Linked DNA regions of Homo sapiens: regions 2 and 3 are each linked to region 1. The links come from fine-mapping of genetic effects on gene expression. A gene starts in region 1. Each other region holds a variant in brackets. All regions are shown on one strand. Distances are between the middles of the regions. Region 1 holds the start of PCCA (propionyl-CoA carboxylase subunit alpha). Region 2 overlaps PCCA (propionyl-CoA carboxylase subunit alpha). Region 3 overlaps PCCA (propionyl-CoA carboxylase subunit alpha).

Region 1 (4,242 bases):
CTTCCTTCTTATCATCTGAGATGACAACTTTACCTCCACTGTAGTGTCCACATTCTGGCAAACTGGAAAGAGGAGAAGGGCAAGTGGAAAGCAAGCCTTTCCCTTTAAAGGTATAACCCAAAAGTTGTCTATGTCACTTGTGCTTATGTCCCATTGGCCAAAACTTAGTAACCAAATCTTGGTAAGCACCCTTGCTGCAGTGGGAGTTGGGAAATGTAGATCTTTGTTTAGGTAAGAAAGAAGAGGGCATGGAGGGCACAGTCCTTACATTCCAGACCTTAGTCATGGCGCTACACCTCGTTGTAAGGGAGGCTAGCTATTGCAGCCTTTCGCTGGGTGGCCATGTACCCAGCTAGATCTCAGGGGCACTCTTACTAAAGTAATGCATGGAGAATGGATAGCATGAGAAGCAGTTTCTGCTACAAGTGCCTTTCATAAAAAGAACTCCTATAAGAAAAACAAACAGGGCCTAAGGAAAACTAATCCAAAGGGTAAAACATGGGGAAAAGACAAAAAACAAAAGAAAAAAGAAAAGCAAGTTTCCCAGGTAGAAAATGAATGAAGACTGAGGTACATAAGTGAGAAGTCCTGTAAAATTGATAATCCTTTTCATTTTGTCACAAAAGTCCCTACTTACATTCTAAAATTCCATTAAATGTCACCTTTCTGATATCCCCATTTTATTTCTCTCTCTTTGGGCATTTACCATGCTGTAGTGTACTCTAGGCCATTCCTAGCTTTGTAACTCTCTCAAGGTGACTCTGCAGGAGATGCAAAGTAGTTAAGAGGAGAACCCCCAATACTGATGTGTTTATAGGTGAGGTGGTCTGATGTCTTAGATTTGCTTTAAAATATTCCTGCACAAAATAAAAAGGGGAATAGATGAAACAAGATTGACAAAATGTTGATTCATTGACGCGGTGTAATGGGTATCTGGGTGATCATAGTACAATTTTATCTCTTTTGTATATATTTTAAAATTTCCATAATATAGCAAAACATGAGCCCAGTCCCTCAAGGCAGCCAGATTTGGGTTCAAACCCTAGTTTGACCTTTTACTCGCTGAGTGACTTTACCCTGCTACAGCTTCAGTTTCTCCAAATGGAAATAATATATACTCCATTAAGGTTCTTGTAAACTCTCAAGTAAGAGGGAATCTGAGGCTCTAGCACACGGCCCGGCCCTTAATAGTTGTACTAATTTTTATTTTATTTTTCGAAACGGAGTTTGCTCTGTCACCCAGGCTGGAGTGTAGTGGCATGATCCGGCTCACTGCAACCTCCACCTCCAGGGTTCAAGCAATTCTCCTGCCTCAGCCTCCTCCCGAGTAACTGGGATTACAGGAGTGCGCCACCACGCCCAGCTAATTTTTGTATTTTTTAGTAGAGACGGGGTTTCGGCATGTTGTCCAGGCTGGTCTCCAACTCCTGACCTCAGGTTATCCTCCCGCCTCGGCCTCCCAGAGTGCTGGGATTACAGGCGTGAGCCACTGCGCCTGGCCAGTAGTTGTACTAACAAGGGTTTCTGCTTGCGAGCAACAAAGACTGACTCTAGTTGTGGCTAATTTCTTTCACACACACATATTAAGTGCCAGAGGTAGGACTTGAGCTCGGATCTCTGATTTCCAGACCTAGAACTTTTTATGTGTTATTACAGTCGTTAAAAACCTTACCTGGATTTGTGCTTTGCAATTTACGCTTTCGAACATGCAGGAATGTAGTTTGGGCATTTGTCTGGAACTTCGGATTCTCGGGACTCCAGGGTGGCCAAGGCGCGGAGGTGACTCAATGACATTGACCGGCCTGGATGCACGTGGGTTGCTGAGCCGATGCTGGGAAGGTACGGGGTTTGCCCGGTGCAGGCCGCCGGAACTCACGCACGCCCCTGTCTCTCTCACTCCTGGGGTCGGCTCTGGCCGGTGGCCTCCAGCTCAGCTAGCGGCCGGACGCGCAGCCCGCCGACTAGCCCTCCAGGTCCTAGCGCGACTCCCGGATCCCGGATCCGGCGGATCTGGCCGACCACTCACCCTCCCCTTTCCGCAAGTTAGGGGGCGGGGCATCGGGTTTCTGGCTCGTGATTTGCCGGAGCTCCTGCGCTCCCCTTCTCCACCCCCTCCGGCTGTGTGAGAGGTCAGCAGAGGGGCGGTCTGCGGGGACAACAATGGCGGGGTTCTGGGTCGGGACAGCACCGCTGGTCGCTGCCGGACGGCGTGGGCGGTGGCCGCCGCAGCAGCTGATGCTGAGCGCGGCGCTGCGGACCCTGAAGGTGAGGAGCAACGGGGCCTCGCGGGTCCGGGCTTCACTGGGCTTCTAGCCGTGCCGCCTCTGGGCGGCTGGCGCCGGGAGAGCGCTGGCTGGGTCCGGCTGCCCCCGCGCCCCGGTTCCGCATCAGCTACACCGCTTGCTTTCCTCCCTCCCGGAGTTCGCGTGGCAGCGGGCTCAGGAGGCATCCCTCGTTGCAGCTGTTCCTCGCGGGGATCCTGCGGAGCAGAGAGGCCTAGGGCAGAGGCAGTTGGGTGCCCGCACGCCCTCCGAGGCGGCTGATGGCTTTGGGCAGGCATATTGCTCGAGGTCTGCTTCCAGGGCCCCGCGGCATTGGCTTTGTCTTAAGCTTTCCAGGGTGTCTTTTTAGGTGTCCTTATAGTTTCCGTGTTCTGTTGCCTCTTTCCAGCATTTTTGAAGGGACACTGTGAACTGTTGCTTAAGTAGTGTTAGGGTTGTGAGTTTGTCTTATCTTTTAAAGTATTATACCATGTCAGGACTGCCAATAGATTTTACGTTTCATTTGAAAGCCTGTTTTAATTGTATGACACCCCAGTCTACTGTGTACCAAATGCATCCCGTGAACTTACTTTCCTTTTCGGTATAGTGGTGAGCCTGATTTTGGCACTGTTCTAAACACATTTCATGACTGTTCTGTATACCTAGGCTGTCATGATGGCAGATTGACAAACAGGTTGGAGTGCTTGTGTGTGCTTCTGAGCTCTGTCTCCAGTCAATGTCGAGTCTGTCGTTAATTCTGGGGCACAGACCACCTAACCTACTTTATAAGGTTTGTTGAGGCACTTGAACACATTCTTTAAAATGAAGGTCCCCTGAAAACCATCTGTCAGCTGGTTCAGTGTGCTTGTTAAACTTCCTTTTAAAAAATAATTATTAAAACATTGCCACATAACTTGATTTATAGTCATTTAATTTTAGACGTTGAAGACACTTTAGAGACGACCTGCCCCATCCTACTCTTTAAAGAGGAGGGAACCGAGCCCCAGGTGGGCAGTATGAGAGCTGGAGCTTATCGACATGGAAGTGAGTGGCACCTATGTTTGTTTTGTGTCCAATTCAGCGTGCGGACTTTCACTGTTTTCTGTGTTCCCATACAGTTTAGTGTTCTTTAATCTTTATCATTCTGTTCATCTGTGTTGGCCACTTCAATTGCAGCTGTAAGACTTATGCATTTACATAGGAGGCAAGTTAGTATGGTGTAAAGTGTGGGCTTTGGGGTCAGGCGCATGAGGCTTTGTATATTGGACAGGTCTCTTCCTTGGGCGTCAGCTTCGTCCTTGTAGCTATTTTTTTCAACAAATATTTACTGAATATCTCCTGTCTTCCACTTCTGGGGAATGAATATGGTTTCTGCTTTCTTAGAAATTTTACTCTAGTAGGGAGACTGTAACAAGTGTAAAATGGTATTAGGGGAGATGCCCGGGTGCTATAAGAAAATAAAATAGAGGGATTTGACCAAGCCAAGATTTTGAATTCTGTGTTCTAGATACTGTTCTGTTGCTTTGCTTGAACTAATTTATTCAATCTCACAACAGTCGTATGTCCCCCATTTACAGAAGATGAAAGTGAGGCACTGAGTGTTAATGTGACTTGCTCGAAGCTATAGTGCCAATAAGTGGCAAACAGGATTTAGAACTCCAGAACCTGTGCTCTTAATCATACTATGCTATCTACGGTAAGGGAGTGTTTTCCTTTGGAACTGAAAATTGAGACAAGTTTTGAAGGATGAAGTGACCTTTTCTAACAAACAGAGATGAATGTTATAGGTGAGAGAGCAGTGTATGCAAAGGTCCTGTGGCCAGAGGGAATGACAGGTTAGAAGAACTGAAAAAAGCCTACAGAGGCTCTGATGCAGAGAGTAGATGGTGTTGGGGAAGCTGGCAGGAGTCAGACCATCTGGCTCTTATAGATCACATTATGAGGTTTGGTGTTTGTCTTAGAGCAGTGGGAAGACATTGAT
Region 2 (4,242 bases), 29 kb after region 1:
AATAAGTCACACAAGGAAGGAAAGCCAGCTAACTTGCAAACAATTAATGTTTGATAGAAAAATGTTGGCTTTTAGAGATGATTATGCAGTTTACCTCTGTTGGTCCCTTCCCTCCAACATGTTCTTCAAAATTGTCTTCAGTATTCTTGGTCCTTCGCTCTTCCATGTGAATTTTAGGATGAGCTGGCCAATTACCCCCCTTCCCCAATTTTTAGATACCATGAACAAGATTTTTATAAGTATAACTTTTGCATGTCTTTTTGTGAACATAATTTTGATTTTTTTTGGGTAAATATCTAGGAGTGGAGTAGCTGGGTCTTAGGGTAGATAAGGAGTTGGCAACCTTTTTTTGTTTGAAAGTAAATACATTTTTGTCTGGATAGCAAATATATTTTAGATTTTGCAGGCCCCTGTGGTCGCTGTTACATATGCTTCTTTTTGTTTTGTTTTGTTTTGTTTTAACAACACTTTAAAAATGTGAAAACTATTGTTAGCTTGAGAGCTGTGCAAAAACAGCCCTTGGATCAGATTTGGCCAGTGGGTAGACAGTATTTTGCTGATGCCTAGAATAAATACATGCATGTTTAAATTTATAAGAAGCTGCTAAATAGTTCTCCTTCATGGTTGTATCATATTTTACTCCCTCCAGAAATGTCTAGGTCAGGGTGCTTTTGTGTCCTTGCCAACACTTGGTGTTTTCAGTCCATTTGATTTTGTGTTTTATTTTTAAGTGGTTGTGAAGCAGTATGTCATTGTGTTTTTAATTTTAGATTTTCCTGATGAATACTGATGTTGAGTACTTTTTTGTGTTATTGGTCATTCATTTATATTTTTTTCTGAAGCATTTCTTCAAACATAATGAAAAAAATTAGAAAAGTAGTACCAGTATATTGGTATCAGTTTACTGTTATATACCAGTATAACGGTATCTGTATACCCTTCACCTAGATTCAGCAATTGTTAACATTTTGGCTTGTTTGCTTTATATTTGTATCCATATGTACATTGTGTGTGTGCATTTTTTTTTTTTTTGGCTAAACAATTTGAAAATAAGTTACAGGACATGGATGAAGCTGGAAACCATCATTCTCAGCAAACTATCACAGGGACAGAAAACAAAACACTGCACGTTCTCACTCATAGGTGGGAATTGAACAATGAAGACACTTGGACACAGGGTAGGGAACATCACACACTGTGTCCTGTTGTGGGGTTGGGGGATGGGGGAGGGATAGCATTAGGGGAAATACCTAATGTAAATGACGAGTTGATGGGTGCAGCAAAACAACATGAGACATGTATACCTATGTAACAAACCTGCACGTTGTGCACATGTACCCTAGAACTTAAAGTATATATATATATGTAAAAAAAGCAGCATTAAAAAGAATCCCCTGGACAGGAAAAAGAAAAAAAAAGAGGCCGGGCGTAGTGGCTCACGCCTGTAATCCCAGCACTTTGGGAGGCTGAGGCGGGCAGATCATGAGGGCAGGAGATCGAGACCATCCTGGCTAACACGGTGAAACCCTGTCTCTACTAAAAATACAAAAAATTAGCCAGGCGTGGTGGCAGGCTCCTGTGGTCCCAGCTACTTGGGAGGCTGAGGCAGGAGAATGGTGTGAACCCGGGAGGCGGAGCTTGCAGTGAGCTGAGATCGTGCCACTGCAGTCCAGCCTGGGCGACAGAGCAAGACTCCATCTCAAAAAAAAAGAAAAAAAAAAAAAAAGAAAATAAGTTACAGACATTGTGGCATTTTACCCGTAAATACTATTCATCTCGCAGTAATAAGTATGGTTTTCTACATATCTATAATACCTTATGAAACCTAAGAAAATAACTCATTATTCTATAATATCATGTAATATGCCTACCACATTCAGGTTTTTCCAGTTGACCCCAGTTGTCCTTTTTAATATTTTTCTTTGATCCACAGTTCAATCAAGGTTCATGAGTTACATTTGTTTATTATACCTCTTTAGTCTCTTAATCTAAAATAGTGCCCCTATTCTCCCTCTTTTTTTGTTTGATTTTTATTATGTTGGCTTTTAGATATTTTGGCTTTGTATGGAATCTATTTTCTCATGAATAGATTCAGATTAAATATTTGACAAGACTACTTCATAAGTGATGTTCTTTCTTTTTTTCTTTTTTTTGTGACAGAGTCTCTCTCAGTTGCCCGGGCTGGAGTGCAGTGGTGAGATTATAACTCACTGCAGCCTGACTTCCTGGG[C/A]ACAAGCGATCCTCCCACCTTAGTTTCCCAAGTAGTTGTGACTACAGGTGCATGCCACCACGCCTGGCTGATTTTTGTATTTTTTGTAAAGATGGGGTTTCACCATCTTTCCCAGGCTGGTCTTGAACTCCTGGGCTCAAGAGATCCTCTTGCCTTGGCCTCCCAAAGTGCTAGGATTACAGGCGTGAGCCACCGTACCCCAGCCAGTAATGTTATTTTTTTTAATAGTAATATCATAACAAGAGGTTCTTAATGTTGAATTGTTCTGTTGTTATGCTAAGTATGATCATTTGGTTTCATCAGGTCTTCCCATTATAATGGTACATTTTCTTTTTTTTTATTAAATAATTTTTGGGGTGAGTTTTTGAATCCTTGTGAATATTTTGTCCCTCAACCACCTCTCATCTAATGTTTTTGCATCGATAATGAAAATTGCCTGAGCCTGATTACTTTGGTTACATTTGTCTTGTTTGCTGTCTGTGGAGTAAGCTGTTGATTTTCTGCTCCTTTTTGAATCTGCCTGTTTTTATGTATTATCTTTTTTCTTATGTATTTGAGGCCTTTAGTATATTTATTTTTAGCATATTTAATTTAAAGAATCTATCATATTATTGTATTATTTCAAGTTTGTGGGTGTTTATTTCTATTCCTGACTCTTCCTCATAACATATTGTTTCCTCGCATGTTTAAATTTTGGTGTGTGATTCTATGTTTGGTGCTTTTGTTGTTGAATTTCAAGATGGTTTGGGTTATGGATTTGGCCAGGTAGGATAGGTGGTATATTTGTTTCCATCACACCCTCCAGGGTATCACTCATCTGGGACTAATTTTTATATTAAATTTTTGGCATAAAGATTGTCAAATTTTGAAGATAATGGGAAGAACAAAATGAGATTGCACACACACAGATACACACCTGTTGAATAGGCTCATGGTTTCTAATATCTAGAGACATTTTCGTTTACTTTGAACCACAGAGATACGAGCATAGGGTTTATCCTCTCTATTTCGTAGGTTGATTCCTCCCCCACAACCTTTCACTGAGAATGTAATCTTTGAGCCTCCTGGCTTTAGACAGAAGGGTTTCCTTCAAACCTCCAACTCACACGGGATCTGTTTCCTTTCTCTGATCGTTAAAACCCAATCTTCTAGATTATTGAGATTCCCACCTTCACTCTCCAAGACTGGCTCTTGTGGATGCAGACTGATTTTCATTTTTATATTATTTATTTATTTATTTATTTGAGCCGGAGTTTTGCTCTTGTTGTCCAGGCTGGAATGCAATGGCGCAATCTCAGCTCACTGCAACCTCCATCTCCTGGGTTCAAGCGATTCTCCTGCCTCAGCCTCCCGAGTAGCTGGGCTTACAGGCATGCATCACCAAACTACTGAATTTTCAGTAGAGACAGGGTTTCACCATGTTGGCCAGGCTGGTCTCGAACTCCTGACCTCAAGTGATCCACCCGCCTCAGCCTCCCAAAGTGCTGGGATTACAGGTTTGAGCCACCATGCCCAGCCAGATTTTCAGATTACTTTTTTTTTTTTTTTTTTTGAGACAGAGCCTTACTCTGTTGCCCAGGCTGGAGTGCAGTGGTGTGATCATAGCAAACTACAGCCATGAACTCCTGGGCTCAAGTGATTGTCCTGCTTCAGCCTCCTGAGTAGCTGGGACTACATGCACATGCCGTTGTGCCCTGCTTCCTTTTTCTTTTTCATCCCTTGTAGTTTTTTTGTGAGCCAAGCTCTTCATTTGAAGGATGTTTGTTATATTTAATCTAGGTCTTTAGATGTTTCTAAGGAGGATTTGCAGGTTATTTAGTTGGCTTATTGTTGGTTTGTCTTAAAACAATATGACATCCTATTCTTTGTTGAGGAAATTCCCTTAATTTCTTTGAGAAATAAAGACTGATCTAGAGCAGTCTTAAAGTCAGGCTTTCCCTAGGAAAACAATTCATTTATAATGATGAGATTAATGTGCCTGAATCCAGGGGATGAGGCTATAGGGAAGCAGT
Region 3 (4,242 bases), 290 kb after region 1:
GCAATTTGGGTGGGGACACACCCAAATCATGTAATTCCCAAATTAGTCTAAAGATGCAACACAATTCCTGCCGAAGTCCAAGCTGTATTTTTATCAGAAATTGACAAGCTGATCCTAAAATTTGGAAAATATGGAAACTTAAGGGACCCAGAATAGCCAAAGTAATCTAAACACACACACACACACACACAGACACACACGAAAAAACAAAAAAACACGCCAGTCACATTGGCTCAGACCTGTAATCCCAGCACTTTGGGAGGCCAAGGCAGGAGGATGACTTGAGCCCAAGAGTTCGAGACCAGCCTGAGAAATATAGTGAGGCCCCCATCTCTACAAAAAAGTTTTTTTTAGCTGATGGTGGTAGCATGTGCCTCTAGTCCCAGCTACCTAGAAGGCTGGGGTTGGAGGATAGCTTAAGCCCAGGAGGTGGAGGTTGCAGTGAGCTCTGATCACACCACTGCACTCCAGCCTGGGATACAGAGCAAAACTCTGTCTCAAAACCAACCAAACAAACAAACCCACAAAAATCCAGAATTGGATAAATCATATTTCCATCTTTCAGAAGTTACTACAAACAGCCTTGTAATCAAATACAGTGTAGTACTTGCAAAATGATTGTCATATAAATCAACAGAATAGAATTGAGAATCCAGAAATAAGCCCAAAAATATATGGTCAATTGATCTTTGACAAAGGTGCCAAAATAATTCAATGGTAAAAAGAATAATCTCTTCAACAAATGGTGTCGAAACACCTGGGTTCACATGTAAAGGAATGAAGTAGAAACCCTACCTCATATTGATTAGTATACAAAAATTAATCCAAAATGGATTGAAGACCTAAATATAAGAGGCAAAACATCTTTAAAAATAGATGAATTGTTCAACATCAAGATTAAAATGTTTGCTTCAAAGGACACTAACAGGAAATTGAAGACAAACCAGAGAATGGGAAAAAATATTTGCAAATGAAATTTTCAGTAAAGCACTTGTGTTTAAAATACATAAAGAACACTTACAACTTAACAATAAAAAACAGCCCACTCTAAAAATAGGCAAAAGATCTGAATAGACGTTTCTCCAAAGAATATATGCAATTGCCGGTAAGCACATATAGAGATGTTCTGCATCATAAGGCATGGAGGGATCCAGATGCAAATCAAAACCACAGTGAGATTGTCCTTTGTACCCACTACATAGCTCTACTTTAAAAAGTCAGGTAATAACAAGTGTTGGTAGGCCAGGTGCGGTGGCTCACGCCTGTAATCCCAGCACTTTGGGAGGCTGAGGCAGGTGGATCACGAGGTCAGGAGATGGAGACTGTCTTGGCTAACACAGTGAAACCCCGTCTCTACTAAAAATACAAAAACAAAATTAGCTGGGGCATGGTGATGGGCGCCTGTAGTCCCAGCTCCTTGGGAGGCTGAGGCAGGAGAATGGCATGAACCCGGGAGGTGGAGCTTGCAGTGAGCCGAGATCGCCACACTGCACTCCAGCCTGGGCGATAGAGCGAGACTCCGTCTCAAAAAAAAAAAAAAAAAAGTGTTGGCAAAGAGGTGGAGAAATTGAAACCTTCAAATGCTATTGGTGGGAACGTAAAAGGGTGCAGCTGCTTTGGAAAACAGGATGGCATTTCCTCAAATGGTTAAATATCTGGGTTATTCAGAACCTTGGCTCTGTTGTATCAGGAGTATTTAATCTTGAATATTTATATAAGTATTTATGTATTTCTTTATTACTATGGTGAATATATCTTACCTTTCAAATAATATTGAAGCAAGTTATTTCCCTGACCCCTTTGC[G/A]GGACCGCTTTGCCACGGGGTGCCTCCTTTAATCAGCCTATAGCTCTCAACTCCTTGTGGGAGGGAGCACACGAGCGAAGGAGGCGGGAACTGTAGTGCAGGAGCACTGGAACTGACCAGCCGTTTTGGCGCCAGTGGGATCAAACTCCACTCATTTGCACCTGTTGCCTTCCACACCTCGTAGGAGGGAGTGCACAGGTGAGTGGGTGCAGGAACCAGAGCAAGTGCTTTTGGGCGCCAGCAGGAGCGAACTCTGTGCAGGCCCCATGGCAGCATCCAGGAGGGGTGCCTGTGACTCCCAAAGCCCCAGAGGGCATGTTACAGTGCTCTTTTAGCTCTGCTCTCCACAGGCGGCTTAAGTGTTAACAGCTCAGTTGGCCTGCTGCTGCCCTCCACCAGCGAGGGCAAAGGGCCAGCGTAACAACCTTTTGTATCCACACACATGGCTCCTGAACTCTTGTCTGGTGTCCAGGAAAAATGAGGTCACACGAACTAATTGAAGGATGGTAAATGCAGGAATGATTTTATTGCCGATGAAAGTGGCTCTCAGTGGGAAGAGAGGGGAGCTGAAAAGGGGACAGAGGAGGGGTAGGTGATCTTCCCCTGAAGTCCGGCTGGATTTTCTCCGGTTACTCCATCAAGCTGTCCCTCTGAAGTCAAGTCCCTTCTCTCCAACATTCAGCTGCTTCTCCTCTCTGCTGATTGAGTCTGGGGTCTTTATAGGCACAGGATGAGGTGGGGTGGGGCCATGGGTAGTTTAGGAAAAGGCAACATTTGAGCTGGAAAACAGGGAGAGAAGTTCTCACTTTGGGCCACGGTCTCAGGCTTTTCAGCTTGAGGGTGGAACTTCACCAGGGACCCACACCTGTCTGCCTAGAATTTCTCTGCCTCCTGTCTCTATCATTGTATCAATATCAAACAATAGTTGTTGGCCTACATGTCAGTAATTTAAAGATGAATTAAATGGTTATATATGATAACATTTATCAGAGACCTTTAGAAACATTCATATTCTTTGGTCTACTATTTTTACTTCTAGAACATATTCCAAGCAAGCAATGAAAAATCGCTAATTCAACATATAATATTTTGTCAGGGAAAAAATAAATTAAAGGCAGTTGGGCTTGGAGATATCCATGTAAACAATCTGTACTTATAAGGGAAGGCAGAGTTGGAAGTAATTAAAATAATGTAATAAATGCATTAATAGAGGTGTCATCAACCAGTTAAATCTATGAGAAAGAAAGAAAGGCACTCAACTGCTTGGGGGAAGGGAAGGATCTGGGGGAAGATGAAAGAAGTTCCTCTTGGGGGAGATGACTGATGAGTCACAGCTTAGAACATATTTTTTAGTATATATAAGCCAGAACTTGCCTCAAAATTATTGTATAAATAAATGAGGAAAAACATTAGAATGTGGTAGCATGGGGGAGAGCACCTCAGTCCCCCAAGTAGCTGAGACTACAGGGGCATGCTACCATGTCTGGCTAATTTTTATATTTTTTGTAGTGACAGGGTTTTCGCCATGTTGCCTAGGCTGGTCTTGAACTCCTGGGTTCAAGCCATCTGCCCACCTTGGCCTCTCAAAGTGCTGGGATTACAGGCATGAGCCACCGTGCCCAGCCTGTGATTTCAAGTTTTATCCAAGCAATATTTTTTGAGAGCAATATAAGATTTGAGACTGGGTGCGTGGCTCACGCCTGTAATCCCAGCACATTGAGAGGCTAAGGCGGGAGGATCACTTGAGCCCAGGAGGTCTAGACCAGCCCTGGCAACAAAAAAAATTTTATATGATTAGCCGGTCATGGTGATACACGCCTGTAGCCTCAGCTACTCAGGAGGCCCAAGGGGGAAGATGCTTTGAGCCTGGGAGATTGAGGCTGCAGTGAGCCATGATTGCACCACTGCACTCTAGCCTGGGTGAGAGTGAAATCCTGGACCCCGTGTCGAAAAAAAAAAATAAAGATTTGAGATAGGTAAGCTTTTGTGTACAAGAGAGTTTGTGCTACATTTTGTTTTCTTTATAATGTTTGTTTTGGTTGATGCAAAATTGTTTCATCTTAGATGCTTGAGGTGGAAGGAGGGAATTGTTTTGTAGTATTCATATAATTGAAATTACCACCCTATATTTTTCTCCTCAAAGAAAGAATATGGTGATGAACTAAGAATAGAAAATAATAACTACATATGGATGCATAATAAGAAATAATTATATACGCATTGTTTGACGTTTTCCTTCTCTGCTATAACTCACCCTTTTTCCTTTGTTCTACCACCATATGTTTTGTTCTGGATTTCTTGACTAAGAAAACATTCCACCATAGTTTATTTTAATATTTAAAGAGCACTTTGAAAGTTTGATTTTTTTTTTTTTTTTTGAGACAGAGCTCACTCTGTTGCCCAGGCAGGAGTGCAGAGGCACAATCTTGGCTCACTGC

What was found. PIP is the estimated chance that this variant, and not a neighbour inherited with it, causes the effect. A credible set is the group of variants that fine-mapping cannot tell apart.
Region 2: its variant is the best candidate, but not a certain one, in a credible set for the expression of PCCA in whole blood (TOPMed, PIP 0.54).
Region 3: its variant is the best candidate, but not a certain one, in a credible set for the expression of PCCA in whole blood (TOPMed, PIP 0.72).

The regions. Positions count from the first base shown.
Region 1 is chr13:100,086,961-100,091,202 of GRCh38, forward strand. It overlaps PCCA (propionyl-CoA carboxylase subunit alpha), which reads left to right and starts at 2,133. Exons shown (of 24, transcript NM_000282.4): 1 at 2,133-2,265. The coding sequence starts at 2,161. PCCA-DT (PCCA divergent transcript) reads right to left here and starts at 1,983. Exons shown (of 2, transcript NR_132422.1): 1 at 1,673-1,983. RefSeq lists enhancers at 1,663-1,712, 1,743-2,002 and a silencer at 2,283-2,462.
Region 2 is chr13:100,116,415-100,120,656 of GRCh38, forward strand. All of the region lies in intron 4 of PCCA (propionyl-CoA carboxylase subunit alpha), which reads left to right. Among named protein-coding and RNA genes, the nearest start is that of PCCA, 29 kb to the left of the region's middle. The variant C/A (reference allele first, on the strand shown) is at 2,231.
Region 3 is chr13:100,379,863-100,384,104 of GRCh38, forward strand. All of the region lies in intron 19 of PCCA (propionyl-CoA carboxylase subunit alpha), which reads left to right. Among named protein-coding and RNA genes, the nearest start is that of PCCA-AS1, 99 kb to the right of the region's middle. The variant G/A (reference allele first, on the strand shown) is at 1,805.